Linked DNA regions of Homo sapiens: region 1 is linked to region 2. A link means that fine-mapping ties the variant in region 2 to the expression of a gene that starts in the linked region. Tissue or cell type: whole blood. Region 2 holds a variant in brackets; the other region holds the start of a gene. All regions are shown on one strand. Distances are between the middles of the regions.

The links. PIP is the estimated chance that this variant, and not a neighbour inherited with it, causes the effect.
Region 1: it holds the start of EZH1, and the variant in region 2 is fine-mapped to the expression of EZH1 in whole blood (TOPMed, PIP above 0.99).

What each region holds. Positions count from the first base shown.
Region 1 is chr17:42,742,214-42,747,213 of GRCh38, forward strand. EZH1 (enhancer of zeste 1 polycomb repressive complex 2 subunit) reads right to left here and starts at 2,827. Exons shown (of 21, transcript NM_001991.5): 1 at 2,798-2,827. RefSeq lists a silencer at 2,405-2,984.
Region 2 is chr17:42,690,075-42,697,050 of GRCh38, forward strand. It overlaps CNTNAP1 (contactin associated protein 1), which reads left to right. Exons shown (of 24, transcript NM_003632.3): 12 at 14-133; 13 at 665-868; 14 at 1,063-1,219; 15 at 1,310-1,437; 16 at 1,732-1,917; 17 at 2,425-2,646; 18 at 3,223-3,462; 19 at 5,447-5,800; 20 at 5,951-6,078. Among named protein-coding and RNA genes, the nearest start is that of CNTNAP1, 11 kb to the left of the region's middle. RefSeq lists an enhancer at 827-1,326. The variant A/C (reference allele first, on the strand shown) is at 4,039.

The DNA.
Region 1 (5,000 bases), 51 kb after region 2:
CTCACTGCAACTTCCCACTCCCAAGTTCAAGCGATTCTCCCACCTCTGTCTCCCAAGAGCTAGAATTATAGGTGTCCGCCACCACGTCTGGCTAATTTTTTGTATTTTTAGTAGAGATGGGGTTTCACCATATTGGCCAGGCTGGTTTTGAACTCCCCGACCTCAGGTGATCCAACAGCCTCAGCCTCCCAAAGTGCTGGGCTTATAGGTGTAAGCCATCAGCCCAGCCTCTAGTGCTGTTTCAAAGGGCACTAATGTAACCATCATAATGAAGAAGTCATTTACACTTTAAGGAATTTTAAGCTGGGCCTTAGCATCAAGTTCCACGATTAGCATACAAGTACTCTGCCAGTTACTGACAATACTAGCATCCGGATCACCTGACTCCCAGTGCCAGAAATTTCCCCACTATTTATTCCACAAATATATGTTGAGCACCTACTATTATACTTAATAGTAGTATCTACTATGTGTTACCATTTTAGGTGTTTGGGGTACATCAATGAATAAAACATATATCCCTGCCTTTGGAGTTGATTCATTATGTTTGTGACACACAACAATAAGCATAAACCTTGACAATGATAGCATTATTACAGTTTTATAGATAGTCCTTTCTCCTATTATGTATGTGCGTTTTTAAGTACTTCTCTCTCCCTTTTTTTTTTCTTTTTTGAGATGGAGTCTTGCTCTGTCACCCATGCTGCAATGCAGTGGTGCATGTCGGCTCACTGCAACTTCCACCTCCCAGGTTCAAGCGATTCTCGTGCCTCAACCCCCTGAATAGCTGGGATTACAGGCACCCACCACCACGCCCAGCTAATTCTTGTATTTTTGTAGAGAAGGAGTTTCGCCATGTTGCCCAGGCAGCTCTCGGACTCTTGACCTCAAGTGATCCGCCTGCCTTGGCCTCCCAAAGTGCTGGGATTACAGGCCTGAGCCACTGTGCCAGGCCTCCTTTTTTTTTTTTTTTTTTTGACAGAATCTCACTCTGTTGCCCAGGTTGATGTGCAGTGGTGCAATCTCGGCTCACTGCAACCTCCACCTCCCGGTTCAAGCGATTCTAATGCCTCAGCCCTCCCGAGTAGCTGGGACTACAGGCGTGTGCCACCACACCTGATTAATTTTTGTATTTTTAGTAGAGATGGAGTTGTCCCATGTTGCCCAGGCTGGTCTCAAACTCCTGGGCTCGAGTGAACGGTCCACCTCAGCCTCCCAAAGTGTTGGGATTACAGGCATGAGCCACCGTGCCAGGCTTTTTTTTTTTTTCTTGAGACAGGGTCTCAGGTGCTGTCACCCAGACTGGAGTGCAGTGGCAGGATCAGAGCTCATTGCAACCTTGACCTCCCAGTCTCAAGCAATACTCCTGCTTCAGCCTCCCAAGCAGCTGGGACTATAGGAGAAGGCCACCACATCTGGCTATTTTTTTTTTGTAGAGATGAGGTCTCGCTATTGTTGCCTGAGCTGGTCCCAAACTCCTGGGCTCAAGCTATTCTCCTGCCTGGGCCTCCCGAATGCTGGGATTTCAGATATGAGCCACCGAGCCCAGTCTAAAGTACTTATCTCCTAACACACACTCTCTCCTATGTAAGTAATCTCTTTTATCAGTGGCATATCTGGGGATTCCAAGACTTAAAATAGACAAGCTTTCACAGAAACCTCTAATAGGGTTAGCACCTTCTCAGGCTGGAAACCTCCTTCAATATCAGTTTCCTAAATTTAAAAAACATGGGGTGTGGGAATTTTTTTATTCAGCGGCAGTATGGCAGCAAACGTGGAGGAGACTCGCGTTTTCATTGCCATCCTTGCACCCACCTAATTGTTAGTGTACCTGAGCTCCTTTGCTTTCATCCTCCCCTGCCAAGCGTCAGGTTCCTATCGGCCTGGGCTACATCACATACAACCCTGTATTTCACCCTCCATATTCCTTCACATTCCACGGGGGGCACTAACATCCTTCAGGTATCCCTTCCCTTCCCTGCTCAAGAAACAATTCCTCAGTAGTCACTTTTTATTGAAATAAAAGTTTGTCCCACATTTCCTAACAGGCATGTCCCAAATACAACACCTTGTCTGTGCTTCAAGGCACTTTTATTTATATCATTTGATCCTCGGTTGAATGGTGGGGGTGAGCGATCATTGGCGTGAGACCAAAAGTCTGGAGTGAAGGAGATTCTTGCTCAGGGCCAGGCCTGGGGTGAGGCGACCGAGGCACCCAGGACGCACGTGAGGAGGCGCTCACTGCACTTGCGCGACCCTGAGTCAGTGCTCCTTTACACTTTGTGCCTTGGGAGCCTTACTCACCTCACCCTAGTCCCGGCCTTGTTTTTACTGCTACCCCTCCTCAACATCCCCGAAAGCCATCGCAAGATCAGCCCCGGTCTCTAGCCCTCCCCAAGCACAGCTCCAGGTCCCCAGAGTCCACCTCGCTAAAGGCCCCCGCAGGTGCCACCGCCCTCCCGCGCCCTTTGGGCGCTGGGGCTCCCGCCCACCGGCCCACACCGCCATCCAACGGGATTCCCCGTCCCCGAGCCCGCCCCCGCCGCTCCTCCTCCCGGGCACACAGCCCTCGCAGCCCCAGACGCTGTCCTCGCCTGGGTCTCTCTCGCCCCGTCGCCCCCATTCCCCCACCCTCGGAATGAGGAGGGGCGCCTGCTACCCCCGGCCAGGCAGGCAGTGTGTCCCTCGGATTCCTTCCAATTTCCTGATCCCTCCGCCTCTCCCTCCCTCAGGCCCAGGGCGGCGAGGGGAGGAGGCCCGGCCCCACCGCCCGGCCCAGGCTTGTTTACTCACTCACCCTCCATCCCGAGCCGCGGGTCCCGCTGCTAGGACGCATGCGCGCCGCGGCCCCACCCCTGCGCCGTGCCCCGCCCCGCGCCTCCTGTCGGCGCGTGCGCATTGACTTACCCGTGCCGCGCGGACGCACTACTGTCATTTGCCGCCAAAACCCCGCACTCAGGAGTCCTGGCGGGTGCAGCCTCCCAGACGGCTTCCAAAGCGGCGCTGGCAGGGGAGGGGAAGGGCTCTGGGGAAACCTTCGCAGAGCCACTAATATCTTCCTGAAGACCCTATTCAGCGGATTTGCCATCCCCACGCGCTGGTGACAAGCCACATCTCACTTCAGCGTTTGAAGCCAACCCAGATCACCTTCATACCGATGCTTCACCCCTACCAGTTCTCCAGACACCGGTCTATGGGTTCTAAGCCCTTTATTTATGTCTGATCTCCCTATTTCTGTTCATAGTTTTCTAGTCACTTAGAATCAAAATTATAGCCTTGTATCGAAATAAATCCCCACAAGACACCTGCTAGTTACAAAGGGAAAAAAATAGCAACTTTACAGATAAGAATCTGTCAGACACCACCTTAACTAAGTGATCAAAGTTAGCATCACTAGTGATAAGAGGTATTGTTTTCTTCTTCTTTTTTTGCCGGGGGGCGAGGCTGGACGGAGTCTCGCTTTGTTACTTACACAGGCTGGAGTGCCGTGGCGCGATCTCGGCTCACTGCAACCTCTCCCTCCCGGGCTCAAGCAATTCTCCCGCCTCAGCCTCCCAAGTAGCCAGGAATACAGGTTCGTGCCACCACGCCCGGCTAATTTTTGTATTTTTAGTAGAGATGGGGTTTCACCGTATTGGCCAGGCTGCTGTCAAACTCCTGACCTCAAGTGATCTGCCTACCTCGGCCTCCCAAAGTGCTGAGATTACCGGCATGAGCCACCACGCCCGGCCTCCCTCTTCTTTTTAAGGAGACAGGGTCTTGCTGTGTTGCCTAGGCTGGTCTTGAACTCCAGGGTTCAAGCCATCCTCCCACCTTGATTTCCCAAAGTGTTGGGATTACAGGCATGAGCCATTGCCCCCAGCTGAGAGGTATTCTTACCAGGTCCCTCTGAACATGATGCAATGAGAAGCGCACAAAATCACTTCTGTGGTATTCTTGACGAACACGCATAAGCTGATTTTTTGTGCGTGTTGTTTGTTTGTTTGTTTTGAGACAGTTTCACTCTTGTTGCCTAGGCTGGAGTGCAATGGTGCAATCTCGGCTCACTGCAATCTCTGCCTCCTGGGTTCAAGCGATTCTCCTGCCTCAGCCTCCCAAGTAGCTGGGTTTACAGGCATGCACTACTATACCCGGCAAATTTTGTAATTTTAGTAGAGATGGGGTTTCACCATGTTGTCCAGGCTGGTCTCGAACTGCTGACTCAGGTGATCCCCCCACCTCTGCCTCCCAGTGCTGGGATTACAGGCATGAGCCACAATGCCCAGCCTGCATAAGCTGAATTTAATTATGAGGAAACATCAGACAAATCCAAAATGAGAGACAATCTACAAAATAACTGGCCAGTATCTTCAAGTGTCAAGATCATGAAAGACAAGGGGTGAGAAACCATCTCAGATTGGGAGACTGAGGAGATATGACAACTAAATGTAATGTGTGATCCTGGCTTGAATCCTGGTCCAGAAAAAGAACACCAGTGGGATAATTTGATGAAATTAGAATAAAATCTCTAGATTAATTAATAGTATTTTATCAATCTTATTCCTGGTTTTAATCATTGTAATTGAGGAAGTTTGATGGACATATAGGAACTCTACCATATTTGCAACTCTATTAAATCTGAAATTATTTCAAAATATAAATTTTTAAAATTACAAATTAAAATGCAAAATAATAACATCTTGATTTTGATTTTGTCTCAAAGTGTATAATTAGAAAAGCTTATAATGTTCATTTTTTCAAGTAATCTTCATAACAACTGTATGAAGTACGTAGGGCAACTTCAGTTTACACATCAGGTTATTCTGGCCTAAAGGAGTTAGAAGACTTGCCTTACACAGATGAATAATTCTGTCAGGTCTTAAACTCAGGTCGCTGGATTCCAACCAGATTTAGTGTTCTTTTCCTTATATAAAAACTTTGCTGTTTTTCCCTTGCCCCTATCCATTTAACTACCAAATCAAGGAAAATATTCCTTTATACTGGCATTCCTTTCTGTTCCC
Region 2 (6,976 bases):
TATTATCTGCCAGCTTTGTATAAGGAATCCTGTGAGGCTTATCGGCTCAGTGGGAAAACTTCTGGAAACTTCACCATTGATCCTGATGGCAGTGGCCCCCTGAAGCCATTTGTAGTGTACTGTGATATCCGAGGTAAGTGTCTCTGTTGGGTGGTGAGGGGGTGAGGGGAGAACCAGGAAGGATAGAGTGGTGGGTGGGGGCCAGTTAGACTAAACAAGTGAGGGTAAAGGAGGACAGAGGGGAAGGGCATACTGAGGAATTTGTAACCTAGCCTTAAAAGTAAATCCCAAGCCAGGCGTGGTGGCTCACACCTGTAATCCCAGCACTTTGGGAAGCTACTCGGGAGGTTGAGGCAGGAGAATCACTTGAACCTGGGAGGTGGAGGTTGCAGTGAGCTGAGATAGCGCCATTGGACTCCAGCCTGGGCAACAGAGCGAGACTTCATCTCAAAAAAAAAAAAAAAAAAAGTATATCCCAGCTTCCTTACCCATTCCAGCTATCTTATTTCCAGCCTACAATGCAGAGTGCCCAGGGCAGAGGTGGAATGGAGCTGCTGGCCACGTTCAGTGGCTCTGAGTTGCAGCAGCGGTGGTGGAGGTGGGCAGGGAGATGGGTAGAGAATGCCCAACTCCAGCCAAAGCTCTGTCCCCTCTTGTCTGCCAGAGAACCGAGCGTGGACAGTTGTGCGGCATGACAGGCTGTGGACAACTCGAGTGACAGGTTCCAGCATGGAGCGGCCATTCCTGGGGGCTATCCAGTACTGGAATGCATCCTGGGAGGAAGTCAGTGCCCTTGCCAATGCTTCCCAGCATTGTGAACAGTGGATCGAGTTCTCCTGCTACAATTCCCGGCTGCTCAACACTGCAGGTTAGGGCTGGGGTCAGGGAGGTGGCGGAACTGGAGGAGACACCAATGGGGGCCTGGGAGAAGGAAGCCAGAGAGCCAGCTGGGGCCTTGGGTTGGAAGATTCAAGGAGGGGTCTGAACTCGCTGGAAGGGCGAGAGGAGCCCAGAGGCTAATGGAGGGACAGGGCCTGGAAGCTGCCTGCACCTCTTCCCCAGGAGGCTACCCCTACAGCTTTTGGATTGGCCGAAATGAGGAGCAGCACTTCTACTGGGGAGGCTCCCAGCCTGGGATCCAGCGCTGTGCCTGTGGTCTGGACCGGAGCTGTGTGGACCCTGCCTTGTACTGCAACTGTGACGCTGACCAGCCCCAGTGGTGAGGGGGCAAAGGGACAGGGTTTTTAGGACTCCGGGAGTGGGAGGAGCTGAGTGGCTGGGGCTGAGCCATGACATCCTGCCCCCACAGGAGAACTGACAAGGGACTGCTGACCTTTGTGGACCATCTGCCTGTCACTCAGGTAGTGATAGGGGATACGAACCGCTCCACTTCTGAGGCCCAGTTCTTCCTGAGGCCTCTGCGCTGCTATGGCGATCGTGAGTGGCAGTCCCCTTTTGTGTGCCCTCCCAGAGCTGACTCTCCAGTTTCCAAAATCTAGGCCGCATGTCACTGGTGGTCTCTAGCTGGGGTGCCCGACCCCCAGCTCCTGCTGTGATGCGATCTCATTACCCCTCTGCACCTGGCTCCTCTTTCATTCCACTCCTTAGTCTCCCCTCCGTCACCTCAAACCCTCCCCCTTTGCCCAACCTTCCCTGCCCCCAACCCCAGGTTCTCTTCCTCCTCCACCCTCCAATCTCCCTGACAAGACCTTCCTCCATCTGCTTTTCTAGGAAATTCCTGGAACACCATTTCCTTCCACACCGGGGCTGCACTACGCTTCCCCCCAATCCGTGCCAACCACAGCCTGGATGTCTCCTTCTACTTCAGGACCTCTGCTCCCTCGGGGGTCTTCCTAGAGAATATGGGGGGCCCTTACTGCCAGTGGCGCCGACCTTATGTGCGGGTGGAACTCAACAGTGAGCAGGCAGACTGTGGGAGGGCCTCGGGGTAGATGAAAGTGCTGTCTGGGGAGACAGGGGTAGGCTGGGGTTGGAGCCAAGGGCAGATGCCCTTTTGACAGGCAGCATGGGAAGGGTTGAGATACCCTATGTTCTAGCCCTCACTCGGTCTTGACGGCTGGCTGGGTGACCCTAGGCATTCACTTGGCCTCTCTTGGCCTTAAGCCCCTTCCTTGTGCCATAAGGAAGCTGGACCTTCGAGTCCCTCTCACCGCTGATTAGCCATGCTTCTAGCCTGGGAAGTGAGGCTGGGAAGCTGGCTTCAGGGATCTGTGATGTGGGGAGAGACAAAGGGTATGAGGTTTTTAAGCAGCTGGTAAGTTTCAATGCAAGCTACAGACAAATTGGAGGGATATTCAAGAAGCTCCAAAGAGGTGAGGGAAAGAGGTTATATTGGGCAAGGATCTATGAAGGGTCTTGTAGGTCTGAGTCCTTTTCTCCCCTACCCTGCATCACACTGTCCAGCATCCCGGGATGTGGTCTTCGCCTTTGATGTGGGGAATGGGGATGAGAACCTCACAGTACACTCAGACGACTTTGAGTTCAATGATGACGAGTGGCACCTGGTCCGGGCTGAAATCAACGTGAAGCAGGCCCGGCTCCGAGTGGATCACCGGCCCTGGGTTCTGCGGCCTATGCCACTGCAGACCTACATCTGGATGGAGTATGACCAGCCCCTCTATGTGGGTAAGCAGCAACCCAGAGGCAAGTCTGAAGCCTCCTTTACCTCCCCATCCTCCAAGGCCACTCGCCTTGTTTCCAGGAGCCTCCTGTCTTAGGTGCCAGTCCCCTCTGCTTCAGAGCAAGCCAGTGTCTCACTTGTCCCTCCAGGCCTTTGTATCCTATTCTATTCTTCCAGCCCTCTTGGCTCCCTTTCCAACTACAATACTTCATCCTGTCTCTGGCTCTGCCTCCATTTCTTTTCTTTTTTTTTTTTTTTTGAGACGGAGTCTCGCTCTGTCACCCAGGCTGGAGTGCAGTGGCACGATCTCGGCCCACTGCAAGCTCCGCCTCCTGGGTTCAAGCAGTTCTCCTGCCTCAGCCTCCCGAGTAGCTGGGACTACAGGCGCCCGCCACCGTGCCCAGCTAATTTTTTTTGTATTTTTTAGTAGAGACGGGGTTTCATCATGTTAGCCAGGATGGTCTCGATCTCCTGAGCTCGTGATTCGCCCGCCTCGGCCTCCCAAAGTGCTGGGATTACAGGCGTGAGCCACCGCGCCTGGCCCTGCCTCCATTTCTTGACCTGTTGCCTACCCTTCCCAGGATCTGCAGAGCTTAAGAGACGCCCCTTTGTGGGTTGCTTGAGGGCCATGCGTCTGAACGGAGTGACTCTGAACCTGGAGGGCCGTGCCAATGCCTCTGAGGGTACCTCACCCAACTGCACAGGCCACTGTGCCCACCCTCGGCTCCCCTGTTTCCATGGAGGCCGCTGCGTGGAGCGCTATAGCTACTACACGTGTGACTGTGACCTCACGGCTTTTGATGGGCCATACTGCAACCACGGTAAGTGCTGCTGGTTATGGGGCAACAGGGAGCCATAGGGTGTAATGGGATGTAGGGAGGGCAGGGAAGGAAATAGCATGTAAAGCCCATATCATGGAAAATTAGAGTTGTCCCTGGATTCCTGAGCTCTGAGTTTGGGGAGTTAGGCAGTTGAAGATCATGGGTGACTCCAAAGGCATGGACAAGGAAGGGATGGTACAGATAGCTGGTGCAAAAATATCTCAAAATCACCAAGTATGCTTTGGGAGCCCAAGGTGGGAGGATTGCTTGAGGCTAGGAGTTCGAGACCAGCCTGGGCAACATGGCAAGACCCTGTCTCTACAAAAAAAATTCTTTTTTTTTTTATGAGATGGAATCTCGCTCTGTCACCCAGGCTAGAGTACAGTGGCACGATCTCGGCTCACTGCAACCTCCGCCTGGTTCAAGCGATTCTTTTGCCTCAGCCTCCCGAGTAGCTAGGACTACAGATGTGCACCACCATGCCTGGCTAATTTTTGTATTTTTAGTGGAGATGGGGTTTCACCACATTGGCCAGGCTGGTCTCGAACTCTTGACCTTGTGATCTGCCTGCCTCAG[A/C]CTCCCAAAGTGCTGGGATTACAGGCGTGAGCCACCGCGTCTGGCCAAAATAATTTCTTTTTTCTTTTTTTTTTTTGAGACTGAGTTTCACTCTTGTTGCCCAGGCTGGAGTGTAATGACTCGATCTCGGCTCACTGCAACCTCCACCTCCCGGGCTGAAGCGATTCTCCTGCCTCAGCCTTCCAAGTAGCTGGGATTACAAGTGTGTGCCACCACACCCGGCTAATTTTTGTATTTTTAGTAGAGATGGGGTTTCACCACGCTTGCCAGGCTGGTCACGAACTTCTGACCGCAGGTGATCCACCCACCTTGGCCTCCCAAAGTGCTGGGATTACAGACGTGAGCCACAGCGCCTGGCAAAATTTTTTAATTAGCTGGGCATGGTGGTGCACACTTAGGCCTAGCTACTCGGGAGGCTGAGGTGGGAGGATCACTTGCACCTAGGAGGTCAAGGCTGCAGTGAGCTATGATCGTGCCACTGCACTCCAGCCTGGGGGGCACAGCAAGGACTGTGTCTACAAAAAAAAAAAAAGCAAATCGCTTCTCCATCTTCCCACCATCACCATGGTAACACAGGCGAACTCCCTTGTCAATGTATTTGATGATTGCTGCATTCCTAAAACATGTCAATGACCCAGTTCTTGGTTAAGGTGAGCCTTGACATTCCCCATAGCAAGATCCTACACACATGCCAAGACTGCATCCTCCCTAAGGCTGGCCTATAGGGAGGATATATGAGCAGGTGGGTTACTGGTGGGAGGAGTGTGGGGGACTAGGGAGATACAAGACTTAGGGACCAACAGATTTCTGGTGGTGGTTTGGAAGTGTGAGTAGTGGCACATATACTACATGGGGTCAGGATATCCCCATCACCCAGGCTGGAGTGCAGTGGCATGATCTTGGCTCACTGCAACCTCTGCCCCCTGGGCTCAAGCAATTCTCCTGCCTTGGCTTTCCTATAGTAGCTGGGATTACAGGCATGCACTACCACACCTAGCTAAGTTTTGTATTTTTAGTAGAGATGGGGTTTTGCCATGTTGGCCAGGCTGTTCTCGAACTCCTGACCTCAAGATGATCTGCCTGCCTTGGCCTCCCAAAGTGCTGGGATTACAGGTGTGAGCCACTGTGCCTGGCCTTACTGCGTGTCTTTAAGCAAGTCACTACTCATCTCTGAGCCTGTTTCCCCATTTGTAAAATGCAGGGGTTGGATCAGATGATCTCCAGTTTCCCATGGCTGTAAGATTCTGTTCTGTGACAGAGGGGCTCAAGGGGACCTAAAAGTAAATGGAGGGTTGTGAGGGTGGCAGAAACTGAAGTAAGTCTCAGGATGTGTGTATGGATGACATAAAACCTCTGAATTGGGGAGTGAGCAGTGTGGGGGCCCTAACCTCCCTGCTTCTACCTGCAGATATTGGTGGTTTCTTTGAGCCGGGCACCTGGATGCGCTATAACCTACAGTCAGCGCTGCGCTCTGCAGCCAGGGAGTTCTCCCACATGCTGAGCCGGCCAGTGCCAGGCTATGAGCCTGGCTACATCCCGGGCTATGATACTCCGGGCTATGTGCCTGGCTACCATGGCCCCGGGTACCGCCTGCCCGACTACCCCCGGCCTGGTCGGCCTGTGCCCGGTTACCGTGGGCCTGTCTACAACGTTACGGGAGAGGAGGTCTCCTTCAGCTTCAGCACCAGCTCCGCCCCTGCTGTCCTGCTCTACGTCAGTTCCTTTGTTCGTGACTACATGGCTGTGCTCATCAAGGATGATGGTAAGCTCTCCCGGGCTCTCTCACCCCACTCCAGCTTCACCCCGGTGCCCCTAATTCTCCTATTGATTCACAAATACAAGGACCCACGTGCTGTTAGAAGATAGGAGTCATGGGGCCTGAGACCCCAAATTTCTTCTCCCCACCCCACAGGGACCCTTCAGCTGCGATATCAGCTGGGCACCAGTCCCTACGTGTACCAGCTAACCACTCGACCAGTGACCGATGGCCAGCCCCATAGCATCAATATCACCCGTGTTTACCGGAACCTCTTCATCCAGGTATGCATAGAGGGAGGTGAGCCAGTTCAGATCATAACCTCATGGTCTCCGTTGTGGCATCCAGGAAAACATCAAATACTTAATATTTGTAGATCACATTTGAATGTATAGAGGATTTTCACGTGTGTCACCTCATGTAACCCTCACAATAGCTCCAAGGGGACAATAGGCATTTTTTTTTTTTTTTTGAGATGGAATTTTGCTCTTGTTGCCCAGGCTGGAGTGCAATGGTGTGATCTCAGCTCACTGCAACCTCTGCCTCCCGGGTTCAAGCAATTCTTCTGCCTCAGCCTCCCGAGCAGCTGAGATTACAGGCATGCGCCACAACGCCCAGCTAATTTTGTATTTTTAGTAGAGACAGGAGTTCTCCATGTTGGTCAGGCTGGTCTCGAACACCCGACCTCAGATGATCCGCCTACCTCAGCCTCCCAAAGTGCTGGGATTATAAGCGTGAGCCACCGCGCCCAGCCAGACAATAGGCATTCTTATTTAAGTGTTTTACAAATCAGTAAAGAGCCTCAGAAAGTAAAGCGGTTTCAGCTACTCAGGAGGGTGAGGCAGGAAAATTGCTTGAACCTGGGAGGTGGAGGTTGCAGTGAGCTGAGATCGTGCCACTGCACTCCAGGCCTAGGCGACAGAGTGAGACTCCATCTCAAAAAAATAAAGTGGTTTACCCAAAGTCAAACCGCTGGTAAGCTGCAAAGATGGGGCTTAAAACCAGGGTTTTAAAAAATATATAGGCCAGGTGCAGCGGCTCACACCTGTAATCCCAACACTTTGGGAGGCTGAAGTGGGAGGACTGCTTGAGGCCAGGAGTTTGAGACCAACCTGAGCAACATAGCAAGACCTCATCTTCACAAAGAAAAATATTTAATAAATAAAATAAAATAATAATAAT